2 separate regions of the Homo sapiens genome follow, and region 1 is linked to region 2. Evidence: fine-mapped expression QTL. A gene starts in region 2. The other region holds a variant in brackets. All regions are shown on one strand. Distances are between the middles of the regions. Region 1 overlaps NCSTN (nicastrin). Region 2 holds the start of ATP1A4 (ATPase Na+/K+ transporting subunit alpha 4).

Region 1 (4,389 bases), 200 kb before region 2:
TTTGGTTCCCTTGCGGCACTTACATTACTGACTTGTGACAGGAGCTCGGTACATTAGACTGACTCATCCCAGCTGTGCCAGATGGGGAATGCCAGCCGGGAGTTGAAGCTGTGAAAGAGTTCTGGGATCCACAGGGGCTCTCCAGAATGAACACCTACTCAAACTATCTGTGAAGAAAGGCCTCCTGGCCGGGTGCAGTGGCTCACGCCTATAATCCCAGCACTTTGGGAGGCCAAGAAAGGTGGATCACCTGAGGTCAGGAGTTTAAGACTAGCCTGACCAACATGGTGAAACCCATCTCTACTAAAAATAAAAAAAAATTAGCTGGGTGTGGTGACACATGCCTGTAATCCCAGCTACTCGAAAGGCTGAGGCAGGAGAACTGCTTAAACCCAAGGGACGGAGGTTGCAGTAAGCTGAGATTGTGCCATTGCACTCCAGCTTGAGCAACAAGAATGAAACTCCATCTCAAAAAAAAGGCCTCCTAAGGGAACATGCTGGCTGACCAGGGACAGATTTGCAGTAGGCTTTTGCTACAAATGTGGGGCAAATGGGAGATGGAAAGGGCTATATGACACAAGAAAGCAGAGAAAGAAGTCAAACAGATCCCTGCCACCTATGCCCCTGCCCCATCTCACCTCAAGCTCTTTGCTGGCGATGAGAAATATCCGGGCACGGATATCTTTCCAGCGGCTCTCAGTCCATGTAGAGTATTCAGTAGAGCTCCACTGACTCAGTTCAAAGGCAGGAGACAAGGCCCTGGCTAATCGTGCAGTAGAACGCACACACCGGGGGAGTCGGTCCGTCTCATTAGAATGCAAAGGGCCCTGGACCCATGAGTACTCATACAGCTGCACAGAAGATGCGCCACAACACACGGCTAGGGTGATCCTCTTCTCACTCGTTCCCTCTACCCTCTATCAGTGCCATGCTCTAACCAATTGAGCTAACTGGCTGCTGTCCCTTTACCCTTCAGATGGTCCATTTTCACCCAGGCTTTTCAACACCCAATTGCTGAGGACTGCATCTCTCCACCTCTCCATCCCAATCCCCTGGGTCTAACTAGGTCTAGAAGAACCTCCAACTTTCCCAAGGGAAAGGGGCCCCAGGGCACTTCCAACACCCACCACCACTCACATCCTTGTTTTCACTTGGGACTTTACTTGGATCCTGGCACTGCTCTCGGGTGAGGTTGACCACTGTGCCAGTCAAATTTGCCAAGGCATACTGTACAACATAAGTGGTGTTGGTGGGGCTGGAGACAGCGATGTAATGTTGAAGAGGCCCGTCACCTGAGTGCAGACCAAAGGGAAGGGAAGATTTGGTGGGTGGATGGTGGGTGAAATAGGAAAAGCCCAAGATTGGCAGCAGCCAGAAAGAAGGGCAATGGAAAAGGATCCATCAAATATGAGAAGAAAGAAAGGAAAACAGGGGGTAAGAAAAACAGAGAGGAAAAAGAAAAAAAATAATAAAGGTTAAACCAAAAGACTTTTTCTCTATCCCTTTCCTCAGCTAAGGGTCCCATTCCCACACCAGATGCTTACCCAAGTAGGACCTTAGGTCCTGCCTGAGGATAGACTGGAACCATGAGTTGTTGGCTTTAATCAGGAACCCATAGAGCAGGCGGGTAACCTAGGATTGGAACAGTAAAGAGAGAAAACCCTGTGACTTGAAGGGAGCCCAGGGAAAGAATTATCAGTGGAGACCCAGTCATGGGGCAGGAACCAGACTGGCCAGATAGACTGGAGTTGGGAGACAGTAGCTGGCTCATAAGATGCAGATGAGGCCCACCCAAGAGCTCTCTGGGGCATGAGGCATTCTCACCGGCATCAACAGTCATGTGGAATTCCAAGGTTTGGGACACTAGGGCAAGGGAGGATAGGGACAGCTTGCTGTGTAAATAGAAAGAAGGAGCTAGGGCCCATCTGCTTACCGTTTGGGGATCAGCCTGAACTGTGTCGCTGAAGTTGGTTCCTCCTGCAAGCTCATACAGAGCACGTCCCAGCACCGTGGCCACATCTGCCAGGGCCTGTGGTAGGTGAGGAGGGGGCTGAATGGCCCACCTCTCCTATCCTCAAATGCTAGCATCTTCACTGTGTGCCCCAGGCTCCCACCCAGCCTGGCTCAGTGCTACCTTGGCAGTGTCTGTTACAAAGTTCAGGTCCTCTTCAGGGCTCAGCCATTCGGGATAGCTCACATTAATGTTCTCAGCAGTGTCGTAAATACTCTGGTAATATCTGCCAGGAAAGCCGGCATGAGCCTTGGCTACATTTAGCCAGGGCTCTGCCCCTTTCCTCCCTCAAATGCTCCTTATGCAGGGACTCAGTATCTCATTTTCAGCATCAGAAGAAAGGGGTGAGAGACAATCAGGATCCCATATTGCAGAAGGTGTGGAGAACAGGGAGGTAGGAGTGAGGGTGAGGTGGTTAGTGAAAATTAAAGACTTTCCTGACAGACAAGGTAGAAAAGCTGAATGAGCTCAGATCTTTAAACAAAGGAGAGACTCTTCTACATCATTTGGGCTGGAGATATGGGGGATGGCTAAGATGATTTTCAGAGAACTCTGCCATGTATCATGAGATCAGTTGTATAACTGTTCCAATGAACATTTATATTTAGGGTAGCTGGGAGCAGGAGGTGATTAGCAGGTCTTAGGATCAGGTCTGCTCACT[G/A]ATATATAAGAATACACTGATAAAATCACCATGATGATCCTTATGGAGCCCCAAGGAGATAGATCTTAAAAGAGAGGCTGAGCTCCACAGTCTTTACCATCAGTAAATCCCTGTCCCACACAAAGTCAAGTCAGCTACATAATCAAATCCAAAATGTGTTCAAATGATGAATCTTCACTTGCCCCAAAGTGGTACAAGGATAGCTTTAGAGAAGACAGCTGACCCTAAGTGCTAGGACGGTCACTCCCCTAAATGAATGAGAAGGTGCTACTTGGCTGGGGTCAGAAATAGAGCTCAAGCATTTTCACTACGAAACTCATTTGGCCCTCGGGAAGCTTGGCAATCCAGCCTGAGTAAGAAGTCCCCTGTTATCCAAGGCCTCAAGTTAGGAGCAGTTAAAGGGTAACCCAGAGTTACCCTTTGTATCTCTGGAGCCCCATCAGCTATAGGAGGCACTTTTACCCTCGCACTGAACCATGGCCATCTACCACATGGCAAGAACATGGTACATTTCACAGAGTATGAATACTGTTTCTGGCACCTCTGGGTGAGTTCCAGAGAAGGACTGCTTTCTGTCTTCTAGCCAAAGGGCCCCCACCATCCTTCCCATGCTTGTGTTTGAGATGATGCCCTCTGCTGGCAACCCTGAGGAACTCAGGACCCTGGAGAGCTAGGGAGCAGTGGAACCATAACCAAGGATTGTTGACAGTAAAGGGCTAAGGGTGAGGATGAGTTTCTAAGATGAATATCCAGTCAAACAAATAAGGGTTTCAGTTCAGATGTGAAAACGCCACTGAGCAAAGAATACAGATGGACCTGAAGTTCTGGAGGGGGTAGTGTGGGAAAGCGGAGGGCAGTGACCTTCCTCCCAGACTGCAGAATAGACTCTCTTCAAGAATGAAGAGGGTGCAGGGCCAAGTGATTCTTACTTGTTATGGAAGGCACCAGAGTGGTCAGCCAGAACAACGCCAGAGATGTTTCGAGCTCGAAGAAATCGCTGCAGGGAAGATGGTGGGAGAGGCTGGGACTGATTTGGCCTCCTGAGGATGACAGCAGGGACACCAGCACCACTCTTCTCCAATGTGGCCAGGAGATCCTCCACCTGGGGGGTACGAGGGAGATTAACTGATGGGAGGCTGGGGGATGGGAAGCAGGAGGTCTCTTTTAGGCCTGAAATGCTCTATACTTCAAGTTCCCTGCTTGGGGAGCTACCCTATCTCTAGTAGACCTTTATCCCTCAAGCCTTTTGGGACCAAGGCTCTCTGAATTTCCTGTAGCTTCCACCATTCTTTTTAGAGTTAGAAAATTGGGGCATAAAGAAGAGACCTTTTTTTTCATATTTATAAGTAAATTCTACTGTCTTCAAGACTCTGCTTTATCCTCAGTGGATGCTTCACTTATTATTTATTGTGCAGAATTGAAGGGAGCAAATAATAATAGAAAACTGCGTGCTGAATGCCAAACAGATAACCAATTCTTTAAATGCTACAGGAGTCCAGAGCAGGGATGATGCTGAAGGCTGGAATTGCAGAAAGAGGACCACCTGGAAAAAAGCAGGCCTAAAGGTGGACCTAGAGGGAAGGGAAGGTTTTGAACAAGCAATGAGGAAAGTGGAGGACAAGTTGGGCAGCGAGTGTGACACAGCCAGGACTTGGGTAGAGCAGCCTTGACAATTGGATCCATGGGGCAGCAAGGCAAGAAGGGAGCTAGTCACTCA
Region 2 (4,389 bases):
ATAGATTCTCATTCCACTCTTGTGCACAAGCTTATGTGCTTTTTCCTGTTAATGAAAATGATAGTAGAACCTGCCAATCACCACCAGCCACTCCCCAACCTCTGCCTGAAACACCCGAGGGGCCCCAAAACCCTTTCAGGGGGTCCACAAGGTCAATTTTCATAGTAATACTAAATCATTGTTTGCCTTTTTTTACTCTCATTTTCTTAAGAGTATATAGTGGAATTTTCTGAAGGCCAACTGGCATAACATCACAACAGATTTTATCCAGAAAATATTTGAGAATCCAGCTATCTTCTATTAAAAAGCAAGACATTGAAGAGGTTTGCAAAAATGTAAGATGCTGCTAATTTTTTTGTTTTGAAAAATACAGTTATTTGTCAAAACATATATGAATATATGATAACTTTATTTTTGTTATTTTTAAATGAATTGAGAAATACATTTTAAAACTCTCAATTTTAATTTCTAATATGGTAAATATAGACAGACTTAAGCCACATAAGCACAAGTTCTTTGCGGTCCTAGATAAATTCTAAGAGTGTAAAGGAGACCTAAGGACAAGACGTTTGACCAGCACTGCCCTAAAGCATTCTTATTCTCTTATCTAGTCCCACACTCTCTTTGAGGGTAGTTACCATTTGCAGCTTTTTCCAGGTAGTGTCCATGGAACGTGGCCAGGCAGAGGGTGAGGGGTGGGAACGTTGGACTTGAAGTTAGGGGGCTGGATTCCTAGTTCAGCTTTTGTCCTGGCAGCCTCACAGTCAGAGTTGGAGACTCTCTGCCTCCTCAGGGAGCTTCTTACTCACCTTTGTCAGGTCCACGGAGTACTTGGTGCTCAGCTCTTCCAAGGTTAATTTGTGATCATCCTGAGGGGACAGTAGAGGCATTGAGGGACAGGGGGTGGCCCAGGTCATTTCCAGGGAGAGGGGGAGAAACAGACTGGAGAATGTTAGTCCAAACTGAGACTGCTCCATTTTGTAAGCTCCCTGCAATTCTTTTTTTGAGATGGAGTCACTCTGTTGCCCAGGCTGGTGTACAGTGGTGCGATTTCGACTCACTGCAACCTCTGCCTCCCAACAGGTGTTTCTCCTGCCTCAGCCTCCCAAGCAGCTGGGATTACAGGGGCCCATCACCAGGACCAGCTAATTTTTGTATTTTTAGAGGCGGGGTTTCACCATGTTGGCCAGGCTTGTCTCAAACTCCTGACCTCAGGTGATCTGCCTGCCTCAGCCTCCCAAAGTGCTGGGATTACAGGTGTGAGCCACCACGCCCGGCCTAGCTCCCCACTATTTTACAGGCCTTGGTCAAAGTGAAACATTTCACGGGGGTTCGGGCCAGAGAAACAGCCTGCCTAACCACCTGACCACAGGGCAGACGAAGGCCCAATTAAAGACAAAGACCCCACTAAAGAAACATCCCTATCACATCCTGCTGGGCAAAGGTCCAGGGAATACCATGATTATATTCTGTGGAAACAAGGGCCAAAAATCACCTCATCATGAGAACATCTTATCGATATCCTGCCAGGCAGCAGGCCATACAGCCCAGACTCCTCCCATCCATCCCTATAAGTACCCAGCCTGTAAGTGGCAGTGGACTGTGGAATTAAGCTGATCCCCCACTTCCACAGGTGTCTGCAATATACCTGTGCTTGCTGTTGAGCTGCCCTGTCTCTCTGTGTGTATCTTTTTTTTTTTTTTTAACCCTCTCCTTCCCTCCAAAGCCTAACAGAGAAGAGATGTGGCTCTGGCCTGTGTGTTTCATTCTCAAGGTAAGATGTTAAAGATAGGTGGAGGAGTGTTTTCAGAGGGCAGCTGTCAGCGCCCACTTTGGGTGGCCTCACCATGACCACTTCCTTCTTCAGTTCCTCCATATTGCGCTTCTGTTTTTCCCTCTTCACCATTTTTTTCTTGATAAGCCCTTTTTTAGGTCTTCGTCTTGGACTCTGGTCATGGGGAGCCACTGTCCCTTTCTTCCCCCAAAGCCCCATAGCTATCCCCAGAAAGAGCTGCCCGAGCTCAACTGTGGGAAGAAAGCTGAGAGAGTGAGGCAAGGGGAAGGGAAGAGGGCGCGCGGGCAAGGGGGCCACGAGAAGAGAGTGGTGGGGAGAGAATGAGGGAGCAGAAAGAAAGAGGCAGGGAGGGAGGTGTTGGGTGGTGAAGGTGAGAGAGAGGAAGGGAAGTGAGAGAGGAGAGACTGAGCGGTCCTCCAGCCGTCCGCTGGGAAGAGGAAGAGTCAGGAGTGAGGGAAGAGGGAGGAGAGAAGCCTAGGGTGGAAGGATAAAAAGGTAGAGGTGAGGGAATGCAGTGAGGGCAGGAAACAAGAGGTGAAGCGTAACCAGGTGCCTCAGTGATGAAGATGCCGCAAGGCCCACAGGAAGGTGGGAAATGCAGTGAGAGTGAGGAGGCGGAGTGAGCTTCAAGGATCTGGGAACCCCCCAGTCCCAGGCCCTGTGGTTGCTGGGGCAATGACCCAGGTCTGGCATCACAAAGGCCTCCTGAAAGTTCTAACCAAGAATCCAGAAGTCTTGCCTTGGCGATGGTCCAGGTCTGCTGTCGCAAAGGCCTCATGAAGGTTTTAACCAAGAACCTAGAAGTCTCAGTCTTTGGGTTTGAGGACGATTGGAGCAGGCCCTGCTACAGAAAGAGTTTCAGTCTGAGGGCAGAACTAGAACAAAGTTCTTGTGTGGTCCTGCAGACTTTGGAGGCTTAGAGGTATGCCAAATAGATGACTCAAAAATAAAGCGGGTATTCGGCCGGGCGCGGTGGCTCATGCCTGTAATCCCAGCACTTTGGGAGGCTGAGATCGAGACCTTCGTGGCCAGTATGGTGAAACCCCATCTCTACTAAAAATACAAAATTTAGCCAGGTGTGGTGGTGGGCACCTGTAATCCCAGCTGCTCGGGAGGCTGAGGCAGGAGAAACATCTGAATCCAGAAGGCAGAGGTTGCAGTGAATTGAGATTGCATCACTGCACTCCAGCCTCGGTGACAGAGTGACTCCATCTCAGACAAACAAACAAACAAACAAACAAACAAACAAACAAACAAAAAACCATAGCAGGGAGCTTACAAAATGGTGCAGTTGCAGTTTGGACTAATATTCTCCCGTCTGTTTTTGAGACTCCATCTCAAAAAAAAAAAAAAAGCAGGTACTCTGTGTGTGTTTTTTAGCAAGGCACACTTTTCCACTAACATTGGGTTTGATCTTTTAATTTTAGGAGATCAGCTAGCAGAATAGATCAGATCTTGGGCTCTGGAACCAGTCCTGGATTTCAATCCCAACTCCTCCACTTGTCAGCTGTGTGGCTTTGAGCAAGTTACCTAACCTCTGTACCTCTCTTTTCTTATTTTTAAAAGAGGATACCTTCTACCTTAAGTGAGGTGCTCTACAAAAAGCACTATGTGACATATATAGTATGTGCTCAATAGGTAGCTTGAATTCAGTAGTAGTTTTATTTGTGGATTAATATGCAGCTCTTCTCAGTGAGGGTAAAAATATGCTTTTCCATGTGATAGCGTTGCATTTTCTCATTTTAAAATGATGTACTTACCTCTTCCATTGACCTTCTCTGGTGTCTCAGTAAGTGCTTTGACTATATTAACTGTATATATGTTTTGCATGTCCATAGGATTCTACCTCCTTCCAAGAATAATCTGAAGCATCTATACTTTTCTGTCAACCATTATATATATTTTTCAATTATGCACGTCACATAGATTTTCCCATTCTGTTGTTTGATATTTGTTTATTTACTTTTTGAGACAGGATCTCACTTTGTTGCCCAGGCTGGAGTGTAATGGTGCGATTATGGCTTACTCCAGCCTCAACCTCCCAGGTCCAAGTGATCCTCCCACCTCAGCCTCCCAAGTAGCTGGGACCACAGGCATGTGCCACCATGCCCGGCTAATTTTTTTTATTTTATTTTAGTAAAGACGGGGTGCCCCTGTGTTGCCCAGGCTGGTCTCAAACTCCTGGGCTCAAGCAATCCTTGGCCTTGGCCTCCTAAAATGTTGGGATTACATAAGTGAGACACCAAGCCTGGCCTGATATTTATTTAATTGCATTTTGGTTGGGCATGCTTTTTAAAAATATGACTGTATCTGGAAACATTCATCTTGGTGCTGATGCAATCCTCCTTGAATATTCAGAAATAGAAATGCTCCCTTCCCAGCTGGGATAAATGATCGTCTATTTCTTTAACAGATTGGATTTTTCTTCTCTATTAAAAATGTTTAAGATAAAAATTGAAAGCCCCACCTTCCCTCCCTCCAAACTCAGATTCTCCCCACTGCTGAAGTTACTGCTGGTAACAATGTGCTGCATGTCCTTCCAGTCTTTTTTCTATGTTTATACAAATAGATATCTAAAAGGAGGTATTTTTCAA

What was found. PIP is the estimated chance that this variant, and not a neighbour inherited with it, causes the effect. A credible set is the group of variants that fine-mapping cannot tell apart.
Region 1: its variant is the best candidate, but not a certain one, in a credible set for the expression of ATP1A4 in lung (TOPMed, PIP 0.50).

Annotation. Positions count from the first base shown.
Region 1 is chr1:160,353,503-160,357,891 of GRCh38, reverse strand. NCSTN (nicastrin) reads right to left here. Exons shown (of 17, transcript NM_015331.3): 11 at 3,602-3,774; 12 at 2,135-2,237; 13 at 1,934-2,029; 14 at 1,545-1,632; 15 at 1,138-1,292; 16 at 639-851. Among named protein-coding and RNA genes, the nearest start is that of NHLH1, 11 kb to the left of the region's middle. The variant G/A (reference allele first, on the strand shown) is at 2,673.
Region 2 is chr1:160,149,645-160,154,033 of GRCh38, reverse strand. ATP1A4 (ATPase Na+/K+ transporting subunit alpha 4) reads right to left here and starts at 2,431. Exons shown (of 22, transcript NM_144699.4): 1 at 1,847-2,431; 2 at 810-869. The coding sequence starts at 1,993.